Linked DNA regions of Homo sapiens: region 2 is reported to be linked to region 1. Evidence: microRNA targets listed by miRTarBase, many of them from high-throughput screens and not tested one by one. Region 1 holds a microRNA gene; the other region holds the end of a gene's coding sequence.

Region 1 (5,075 bases):
CAGAGGTACCAGAAGTATACAGTCCACTTATATCCCCAAATACCAATTCACTTCTTTTTTTTTTAGTTTTTGAGATGGCGTCTCACCCTGTCGCCCAGGCTGGAGTGCAATGGTGCAATCTCAGCTCACTGCAACCTCTGCCTCCCAGGTTCAAGCGATTCTCTTGCCTCAGCCTCCCCGAATGGCTGGGATTACAGACGCGCACCACCATGCCCAGCTAATTTTTGTATTTTTAGTAGAGACGAAGTTTTGCCATGTTGGCCAGGCTGGTCTCAAACTCCTGACCTCAGGTGATCCTCCAGCCTCAGCCTCCCAAAGTGTTGGGATTACCGGTGTGAGCCACTGTGCCCAGCCAATATAGGCGTGTGCTGCTGTGCCTGACCTTACTAAATTTCATATACATATATTTCAGGCCTCCCCTTTGCCTGAAAACTGTCAAAAAATGCATTCGTCCTTAAGACGTGTCCTAGGAAAGGAAATTCTTTGAGTGAGTTCATACGCAAGCCATTCACTGGCTTTATAGGAATTAAAGTGATCAAACAAATCCTTGGACTATTTTTTAAACTCCCCTCCCACCTCCTAGACCATTATAAAAGATCAGAACACCTATCTCATAGTCATGAATGAATCCATGATTCAGTATACAAAATGTTTTCACTACATTACAAAATTTGCTTAAGTTTTGCCTGACTCCACCAAAACACGATCAAAGGGCAAACTATATGGCACATAAATTGAAATTTAAGTTTTAAAACAGCTTCTTTTTAAACTCCCATGCAATATACATGGGAGTATAAATTACTACACAGTAATCCAGAGGACAATTTTGCAATAGATATGCAATTTTTTTAAAGGATTCTAATTTATTGTAAGGAAATGGCTGATCAATCCTTTCCATCCTTGCTACCAATGATGTTTTCCTTCCTATAACTTAAATCATCTATTTTCAATGTCACACTTTAGATCCTGTCATCAGCAACTGTAGATTCTTTGTATTTTTGATTTCAAGCTTACCACACTTAGACCACCACCTCCTAGCTTTCCATCTCAATTACTCCAGAAACTCCCTGCAGTAATTTCACAATTTCGAGTTTAAACTAATTAATCCTACTATTTTTTCCACTATTTATCAAGTACCTCTTGGGATCACTTCCCTTTCCATCCAGCTTAGCTTTGTGTTCCATCATCATCACTTTCTTGCAAATATCCACAACCTCCCTACACTCGTTTCCCCCTACACACATACTCCTCTGGCTAAATCTTAATCTTGGTTGACCTAAACTTTCTGCATTCTCTGCTCTTGAAGCAAAATAGCTGATCATTGCTAAGAAAAACAATACCTCTGGGTTTCAAAGTAAGAACCACAAACAAATGGACATAAAGCTTGGTCCAAAATCCTTCTGACCTCCTCAACCCTTCCTTCCCATCCTCGATCCTTTGAAATCTATTTGTTGAAGCAACAAGGCTGTTTGAGACTAATTTCCCACAGTCTACAGCTGACCACATTCCTATAGTATTATTTAAAGTGTTTTTCTGCCCTTTATATTGCTACACATTGGTACTGAATTTAGGGGGCTTTTATCTTTCGAGTCACTGATTTTAGCACTATTTTTCATTAACTTAAGGTGGTATGGCTTATTTACATCTCTCTTTCTCGCCCTATATCCTTCCAAAATATTTGTATCTCAACGTTTTATTAAATTCACTGTTTTTATTATTAGGAATGATATAAGCATTACTCACTGCTGAGACATGCTACTTACTGTAATTACATTTCCTTGGCTGTGCATTCTTTTTTTTCTGGAGTTATTATTACCTTGTCATTTAGAATTTTCCCTGAGCGTCTGAGGCCTTCCCACACTTTGAAAGACATCAAAGTCCCTCTCAATATAAGTTTCCATAAAGTCAAACTCATTGGATAATTTTCTAGGCCTAGTAGAGTGACTAATGAAGGCCTCTTTGACAATGTGATATATAAGGAGACCTGAGTGAAGAGAGGGAGAAAGCCATGTGACTAGCTAAAGTTTTCCAGGCAGAGGGAGCAGTAATTCTAAATGCTCTAGAGTAGGAATATGCTTGCTGTGTCTGAGGAACACAAAGGAGATCTACATGATGAAACACAATGAACAGGGAGGGGAACCCTACAGGAGACAGTGTCAGAGGTACCATAAGCCAGATAAAGTTGGGCCTTGTATGTCACGGTAAGGAGCAACCAGAAGAAGAAAGATGATGTAGAAAAAAAAAGGAGGAGCAAGTTTGACAGGAGGAAATTACTCGATTTTGGATATGTTAAGTTTGACATCTAGGTAGAAATTATTCAGTAGGGAGCTGGAGAAATGAGTATGAGGCTTCAGCAAGAGGTCAGGACTCCATAAAAATGGAGATACTGGGAATCTATTTCTTATGCTCCTTGTTTGTGATTTTAGACAGCAGGGGGTGAAAATATTTATTCTTAAGACTATATTAATTTGGCTTTCATCCTCACCATTCTACTGTAACTTTCATATCAAAAGTCAGTAAGTAAATAACTCCATGTTGTCAAATCCAATGGACCTTCTTCTTTTCTTGAACTCTACGAAACATTCCACAGTAAACCACTCCCTCTCAAATTTATATGTACATTCCCAGCTTCCTCCCTGAACTTCTGACTCTCATGTCCAATTCGTATACTTGATACCTCTACTTGAATGTTTAACTGTGTCAGAAGTTAACCTGTAAAAACGTAACTCTTTATTTGACTACCTTAAATCTCTTCCTCTCCTCCTCCTTATTCTCATTTCAGTAAACAGTCTCATCATCCAGCCCGTTGCTCAAACTTAAAAATTAAGAAACCCTTAATTCTTTCCTTCCTCTTGTTTCTCAAAACCATCCCTGAGCAAGTACAAAAGGTATCTCAAATCTGTCTACTTCCTTCCAACTCCACTGCCTCCACCATAAAGCCATCATTCTCTCTTGGGTGAATTATTGCAATAACTGGTCTCCTTGCTTTCTTCTACAAGCATCTCTCTACCCAGCAAACAGGGAGATATGTTTAAATGTAATCCCCTACTTAGAATCCATCAGTGACATCCACTGCATTTAGAATAAAATCGGATCTCCTTATCCCTACGTGATCTAACCCCAGTCTGCATCTCCAACCTAACCTTGTCCTGTTTTCCCCTCACTCTTTACAGTCAAGTCACACCAACCCCCTTTCTGTTTCTTGAACACTCTGAGGTCTTCAAGGCTCCCAGGCCTATATCCCTGATGCTCCTCTACCTAGAATGCTCTTCCTACACCTCTTTCCATAGCTGGCTCCTTCTCATCCTTCAAGTCTCAGTCTGAATGTCATGTCCTTGGAGAGGCCTTTCCTCACTAGTCTACCTAAAGCACCCTCTTCCTTTACTCTCTACCATAACCTACTTATTTTCTTCATGATGCCCACTAAGAGTTTGATATTCATTTAGTTTATTGTTTGTCTCCCCATCACCAAAACGTAAGCTTTATCAGGGTGGGGTCCTATCTTGTATTTCTAGCACAAATATTAATAGGTACTCATTTATTTGTTGAATAAATTAACCAGACCTCTACATAAAGATGTACATACAATAACGTTTATTGTACCTTTTTTCATTTTGTAGGCTGGGGATAAATGAATAGAATAATAGTTTCTATCCAATCATTTTCCCTAGCCAGTTTCAATGTTCCAAAGTTTAATTAACAGAGCAGGGAAGCTACCCTGAACTGAACTTAACACTTTGGAATTTTGCAGCATTTTTATGCTAGCAAAAAAGTAGACACACTGAAATGTTTACCAATAGGTTTTTATTACAGAGTATTCCATGTAAGAGCTATGCAGTAAATAGAAAGATGGCCTGTGTGTCAGATATCCTTAGCCTCTTTAGAGTCACTCTCCTTCCTCTTCTCCTTGCTCTTTCTCTCCCAGTGTCCAGTTTGCATAGAATGAGTAGAACTTGACCAAGTGAACAAACACAGAGGAGGCATTCTAGCCCACATGCACATAGATCTAGGGATAAAAGTGTATGGTGTGCTGGAGAAACAATAAGTGTGTCCTCCTCTGCTCCCACTACAGCTGGTCCCCTTGTCTGTTACAATTACTATGTTGTAGTATTGTAGCCATTCTCATGTGTTTCTTCTAACCAGGCTCCTAGACTCACACTTTCAGACAACAGAGAAGCATGTCTTTACATCTCTATACCCTCAGTACCTAACACAGTAAGCTCTCTTATAGTGGCTGCAAGAAGAAATCTGCTTTTATCTATATTTTACTAGTTTAAAGGTTACTTTTTTTTTTAAGCGATGGGGTCTCGCTATATTGCCCAGGTTGGTCTTGAACTCTTGGGCTCAAGAGATCCTCCTACCTCAGCCTTCTGAGTAGCTGAGATTACAGGTGCAAGCCACCACACTTGACCAAGGTTACATTTTTAAGACTGATTTATATGGTCATTATATAGACCAAATTTGTCTGTAGAAAAATTAGTCAAACAGTGAGTGACTTAAAACTGTACAATACTGTGGCTGAGGGCATAATTAAATCTTTATTAAAACTGCTACCATTTCTTTTTGTTTTTGTTTTGCTTTCTTGAGACAGAGTCTCGCTCTGTCACCCAGGCTGGAGTGCAGTGGCGTGATCTTGGCTCACTGCAACCTCCACCTCCCGGGTTCAGGCAATTCTCCTGCCTCAGCCTCCTAAGTAGCTGGGAATACAGGTGTGCACCACCACACCTGGCTAATTTTTGTATTTTTAGTAGAGACGGGGTTTCACTATGTGGGTCGGGCTAATCTTGAACTTCTGGCCTCATGTGATCCACCCACCTCGGCCTCCCAAAGTGCTGGGATTACAGGTGTTAGCCATCATGCCCAGTTTTAAAGATATATGCCTATGATGATCTGAATCTGAACTAACTTCCAGATGTCTCACTAAAGGCAATGCATTTTTTCACATAAGAATAAATTTTGGCCGGGTGCAGTGGCTCACGCCTGTAATCTCAGCACTTTGGGAGGCTGAGGCGGGTGAGGTCAGGAGTTCAAGACCAACCCAGCCAACATGATGAAATCCCGTCTCTATTAAAAAT
Region 2 (5,075 bases), not on the chromosome of region 1:
TTTTTTCATAAATAAGTCTGTTTCTGAGAGCTTCCTCACAGGACAAGTAGTACTTCCGTGGGTTGAATCCATTTATCACACAGCAGTAATTCCTTACAGGTTCATTGATTTGGTTTGGGATGAATCATGAATTGGAGCCAATTTGCCGATTTAGCAAATACAAAGCTAAATTTCCTCTAATGTTTGAATTCTTAACTCTGATTGATGTAATAACAAAGCTTTGATATAATATAAAATAGAATTAGTTTATTCTTGCAGTTCTTCCATGGTATTAATTACACATGAGGCTCTTCCGTCTACTCAGTATTCTTGGTTAGAGTATGGTTATTTTTCTTGGACTAGTATTAGGAAGTTGCTTAACAAATTTTAACACAAAGCAAACATTTATGTACTTGCTGTATACATGAATTGTTTTTCTTCTTTATAGGTTCCCTGGCTTCAAGGAAGTACGTCTGGTACCAGGGAGGCATGACATTGCTTTTGTTGAATTTGAAAATGATGGGCAGGCTGGAGCTGCCAGGGATGCTTTACAGGGATTTAAGATCACACCGTCCCATGCTATGAAGATCACCTATGCCAAGAAATAACATTTGGGATAGTCGTCTTTAAAAGACTTGGTGTTATTTACAGTGTTTGTTTTGATAACATTTGGCTGGGTCATTTTAATAGTTAGAGATGAGGAGGAGTAAAAGTGAAATTTTTGTGAAGGACTTAAATTATCCAGTGTTTCTTTAGCCTTGGTGAACTATGAAATACGAAGGCCTTAATTTTGTACAATAAACTTTTATTTGTATTCTGTGTATATAATGCTTTCTTGATTGACCCATCTCCCTATCATCAAATGACTTCTAGTCTAGAACACACTTAAGGTTTATAAACTTGTGTAATAGGATGCTTTTCTAGTGTTACTTTGGAGGAGCTAATTATACAACATCATTGAACCATTCAATAAAAGTTAAGTAAAATTAGATCACAGAAGCTAGTAGATGACTGTTGTATTAATGGTAACAATGATTGTTCTGGGTATTAGAAGAAAATGAGACCCAGGCAGGATCTAAATTTGATCTTTGTATCCTTTTAAGAAATGAATATATTATTTTGCTGCTAGTAGGGATTCCACAAGTTTTCTTCATTCAGTATTAAATAAAGGCTGTTCTTACTGTTTACTGAGAAAACAGAAAGGGAATGCTATCTTCACACTTTGCATTTAATGCTGTTTCCTTCATGAGGCAGGACTGTTCTAAGGTTAATATGCAATCTCTTTATTGAAAGACCTCCAGGGTAAAAATTTTTTGATCTATAGTCTCTTTTCCCCCTTAAGACAAATAGACTGATTAATAAAGAGTTGCCAGTGCTAAGCTTGCTACTTCTTTGTAATTCTTAAACACCAATGTTCAAATATTTCCAAAGCCCATTTTCTTTAGCTTTTGATTTATGTTTAAGGCTATTGATTCAGTCCTCTGCTGAGTAAACCATGGGTATCTCCAGAAGTGGACAATTTGTTTTTACAAGTATGGTACATATTAATAGTAACAACAACAAAAAAGAAAACAGTACTTATTTTTCTGGTGTTCCTGTTTTAGTATTCCTTGAACAAAACCTTTATCACTTGGAATTTTTATTGTCTACTTATGGAAAGACTTTTAGACTTACGTAGACAGTATCACATCACTCTTATGCATACATAAAGAGGAAAAAAATGTTTCCTATAACTTTGTCACAGTTAGTCTGACTCTTCTGAATAACTTTTTTAATCCCAGTAGTCAAGCTCCTGTACTTTTGTAAAATATATTAACAGTGAATTACTAGAAAATGGGCCATGTTCTTGTATATTACAGTGATGTCAATTGCTGATAAATTTTCTAACTGCTTACTCTCGGATACCGTACTTGTCTAAGAACTGAAAATAATTCACAGACTGATCCCATGCCCAGTCCTGGCCATGCTTTGAGTGGCTGTATTGGAGCAGAAAAGCCAGGGTGGCTCACCTGGGGTGAGAATGAGGGGGGTGAATAGTAAGAGGGGTCGTGTAGGTCTTCTTCAGGATTTGCTTATACTCTGAGTGAAATGGGGGACTATTTTAGAGAATTTTTTTAAAGTGGGTTAGAATTTACGTACAATAAAGTTCACCCATGTTAGTGTTCCATTTGATGAGTTTGGGCAATTGTATATAGTCATGTAATAATCAGTACAGAGCATTCCATCACCCCCAAAATTTCCCTTGTACGCCTTTGCAGTCAATCTATTCCCCTCTACCCTTGGCCGTAGTCAACTACTGATCTGCTTTCTGTCCCAACAGTTTCGCCCTGTCTGGAATGCTTTGGAAATGTATCTGCTGTTGCCTATATCAGCAGTTCCACCAATGAATGGGCATTTGCGTTCTCCAATTTGAGGCTATTAAGAAAGTGGCTATGAAAATTTACATACAAGTCTGGGCATATGTTCTATTAGATTTCAAGCAGAAGAGTGATAGTTTGATACAATTTCTAATTTACATAAAAGTTGCAGAAATGGTACACAGAACTTTCATAACACTTCAAATTAATCATTAATGTTTCTAGGCTTCTGGGCTATTTGAGGTTGTGATTACATTGACCTGATACCCCATTATTCCATGATACTTCAATGTGTGTTCTTAAGTACAAGACCACCCTCCCACATAACCACAATAATGACCATCAAAACCAGGGAATGTGGCTGGGTGCGACGGCTCATGCCTGTAATCCCAGTGGTTTGGGAGGCTGAGGTGGGAGGGTCATGTAAGACCAACTGGGGCAACAGTGAGACCTTGTGTCTACAAAAAGAAAAAAAATAAGCTGGATGTGGTGGTGTGTGCCTGAAGTCCCAACTACTGGGGAGGCTGAGGCAGGAGGATTGCTTGAGCCCAGGAGGTTGAGGTTACAATTATGTGTGATCATGCCACTATGCTGCAGTCCGGGCAACAGAGTGAGACCCTGTCTCAAACAAAACAGGAAATAATCCCATATTATCATCCAATCCAAGTTTTGTTTATATTCCAATAATGGCTCAAGAATCCAATCCAGGATTGTGTTGCATGTAGTTGTCATGTTTCTTTAGCCTCCTGTTGATTCCTCAGCTTCTCCTTGTCTTTCATGATGTGAATTTTATATAGAGATAGTCTGTCTACCTCTGGATATATCTACACAGTTATGTTAAAAACTATGAATGTCTAAGAATGTCTCTGCAGTCTTAACAGCACTGAGTTCATCCTGGCTCTCCCCCTTCCCCTGTGTATAAATCACTTCTCCACCAGTCCCATTAACTTCAATATATTATATTTGCTAATTTTCCCAAATCTTTCCTGTGCAATCAAACTCTATAAGGCTTCAATAGGGAGCAGGGGAAAGGAAAAAGGAGACAGCAATGCTTTAAAGAAGATTTGGTCAAACCAAGATCTTTTGACCTTCCCTATCTCATCCATCTTTTGGGAGTGTGAGTTTTGAGGAATGATTGAAGGGAGTAGATGTTATTTAATATAGTGGTTCTTAACTTTGGCTGCATATTAGAATCATCTGGGAGCCATTTTCAAATACCCATGCTCAATCTACACCCCAGATCAATTAGTCTCCAGGGATGAAACGTAGTCATCAATATTTTTATAAACCCCCCTCCCCCCCCAGGGTGATTCCCTTGTCACCCAAGATTAAGAACTAACAAAGCAGGTTTCTACTTTCATGAAGTAGGGCATCATAGATCATTGACTCAAATGGTGTTTTTCAAAAGTAGTATATTGATAAATAGAGGATAATGTTAATTCTGGAAATGGTTGTGATGCAGGGCAGGCAAGCCTCAAACTTGGGGCTTAGCCCAGGAGGATTCTTGGCTTCATCCAGGAAAGAATTCAAGGGTGAGCTCATGGTGGTAAACAGCAGTCTTTTGGTAAATAGTGTTGCCCCTTGCAGAGCAGGGCTAATTCATACACGGTGTGCCCAGAGTTGGCAAAGTATTGGCTCTTGGCAACTGCATTTATACCCAGTTAAACTCACTTTCGGTCACATGCAAATTAAGGGGAGGCTCAATACAAATTGAGGGGCAGATTATTTAGAACTTTCTAGGAAAGGAGTGGTAACTTCTGGGTCATTGCCATGGAAAGGGGTGGTAATTTCCAGGTTGTTGCCATGGCATTTGTAACTGTCATGGCACTATGGGAGTGGCTTATGCTAATAAACAATGAAGACAGCTGAGGATCGCTTTTCTTGACATCTCCTTGTCCCTGCTGGTTTCTTCACTTTTTACTGCCTGGACCAGATCCTGTTCTGGTCAGCAGGGTGGTGACCAGAAAACAAGTTCTTCTGGTCTCCTACCTCAGTTGCAAGAAACTCAAAACTCCATTTTAAACTTTAAGCCTTATAGTATCTTCTGTTTGAGTATTTAACAAGCATTTGTTTTTCCTTGAAAATATATCCAGCCAAGACCTTATGAAGAATGTGAGCTAAAATTACGGTATTTTACTTGCCTGGAAACAGTACTTCTCAAATGTTAATGTGCATACAGGTGACTTGAGTATCTCATTAAAACGTAGATTTAGATTGTGTCTCCGGGGTGAGGTCTGAGAAACTTCATTTCTATAAAGTGATGTCAAAGTTACTGGTCTGGGGACCATGTTTTGGTGGCAAGTTGCAAGACCCCAGAGTTTCTACCCTAATGATTTATTCAATGACTCTTAGAGGTGTTATCAATCTGTTTTTAAAGCCAGGGACTTTGCCCAGGGGAAAAATGCATGCATACACACACACACACACACACACACACACACACACCCCTATGCGTACAATTTCGGAGCAATTGTGCATTCATTCAGTGAATACCTATTTAATGCACACCAAGTATCTTTCCGGGTGCTAATGACAGAGTGAGGAACAAGATAGCAAAGATGCCTGCCTTGTGGAGCTTTCATTATACTGTTGGTTGGAAGACAAACTAAGTAAATAAAGCAGGCATGTCAGCTATGATACATGCCTTAGGACAGTGTACTGCAGCCACGTGATACAGGGATTGGGTGGAGGAAGGTTTGAAGTGGCTCTTTTAAATTGTTCTGTCTGTGGAGGCATCTT

What was found. The annotated mature microRNA hsa-miR-664a-3p reads UAUUCAUUUAUCCCCAGCCUACA and lies in region 1 at 3,616-3,638, opposite strand. An mRNA with a match to its seed (bases 2 to 7 or 8) in the 3' UTR can be bound and repressed. Matches are read on the target gene's strand: a 7mer-m8 pairs with bases 2 to 8, a 7mer-A1 pairs with bases 2 to 7 and ends in A, and an 8mer does both.
Region 2: the mRNA of SNRPB2 is a reported target of hsa-miR-664a-3p. Seed matches in the 3' UTR shown: 8mer at 1,084-1,091.

Annotation. Positions count from the first base shown.
Region 1 is chr1:220,196,934-220,202,008 of GRCh38, forward strand. It overlaps MIR664A (microRNA 664a), which reads right to left and starts at 3,686; the gene lies at 3,605-3,686. The region is part of intron 9 of RAB3GAP2 (RAB3 GTPase activating non-catalytic protein subunit 2); the gene reads right to left. It overlaps SNORA36B (small nucleolar RNA, H/ACA box 36B), which reads right to left and starts at 3,743; the gene lies at 3,613-3,743.
Region 2 is chr20:16,740,419-16,745,493 of GRCh38, forward strand. It overlaps SNRPB2 (small nuclear ribonucleoprotein polypeptide B2), which reads left to right. Exons shown (of 7, transcript NM_003092.5): 7 at 428-2,146. The coding sequence ends at 587. Among named protein-coding and RNA genes, the nearest start is that of OTOR, 5.4 kb to the right of the region's middle.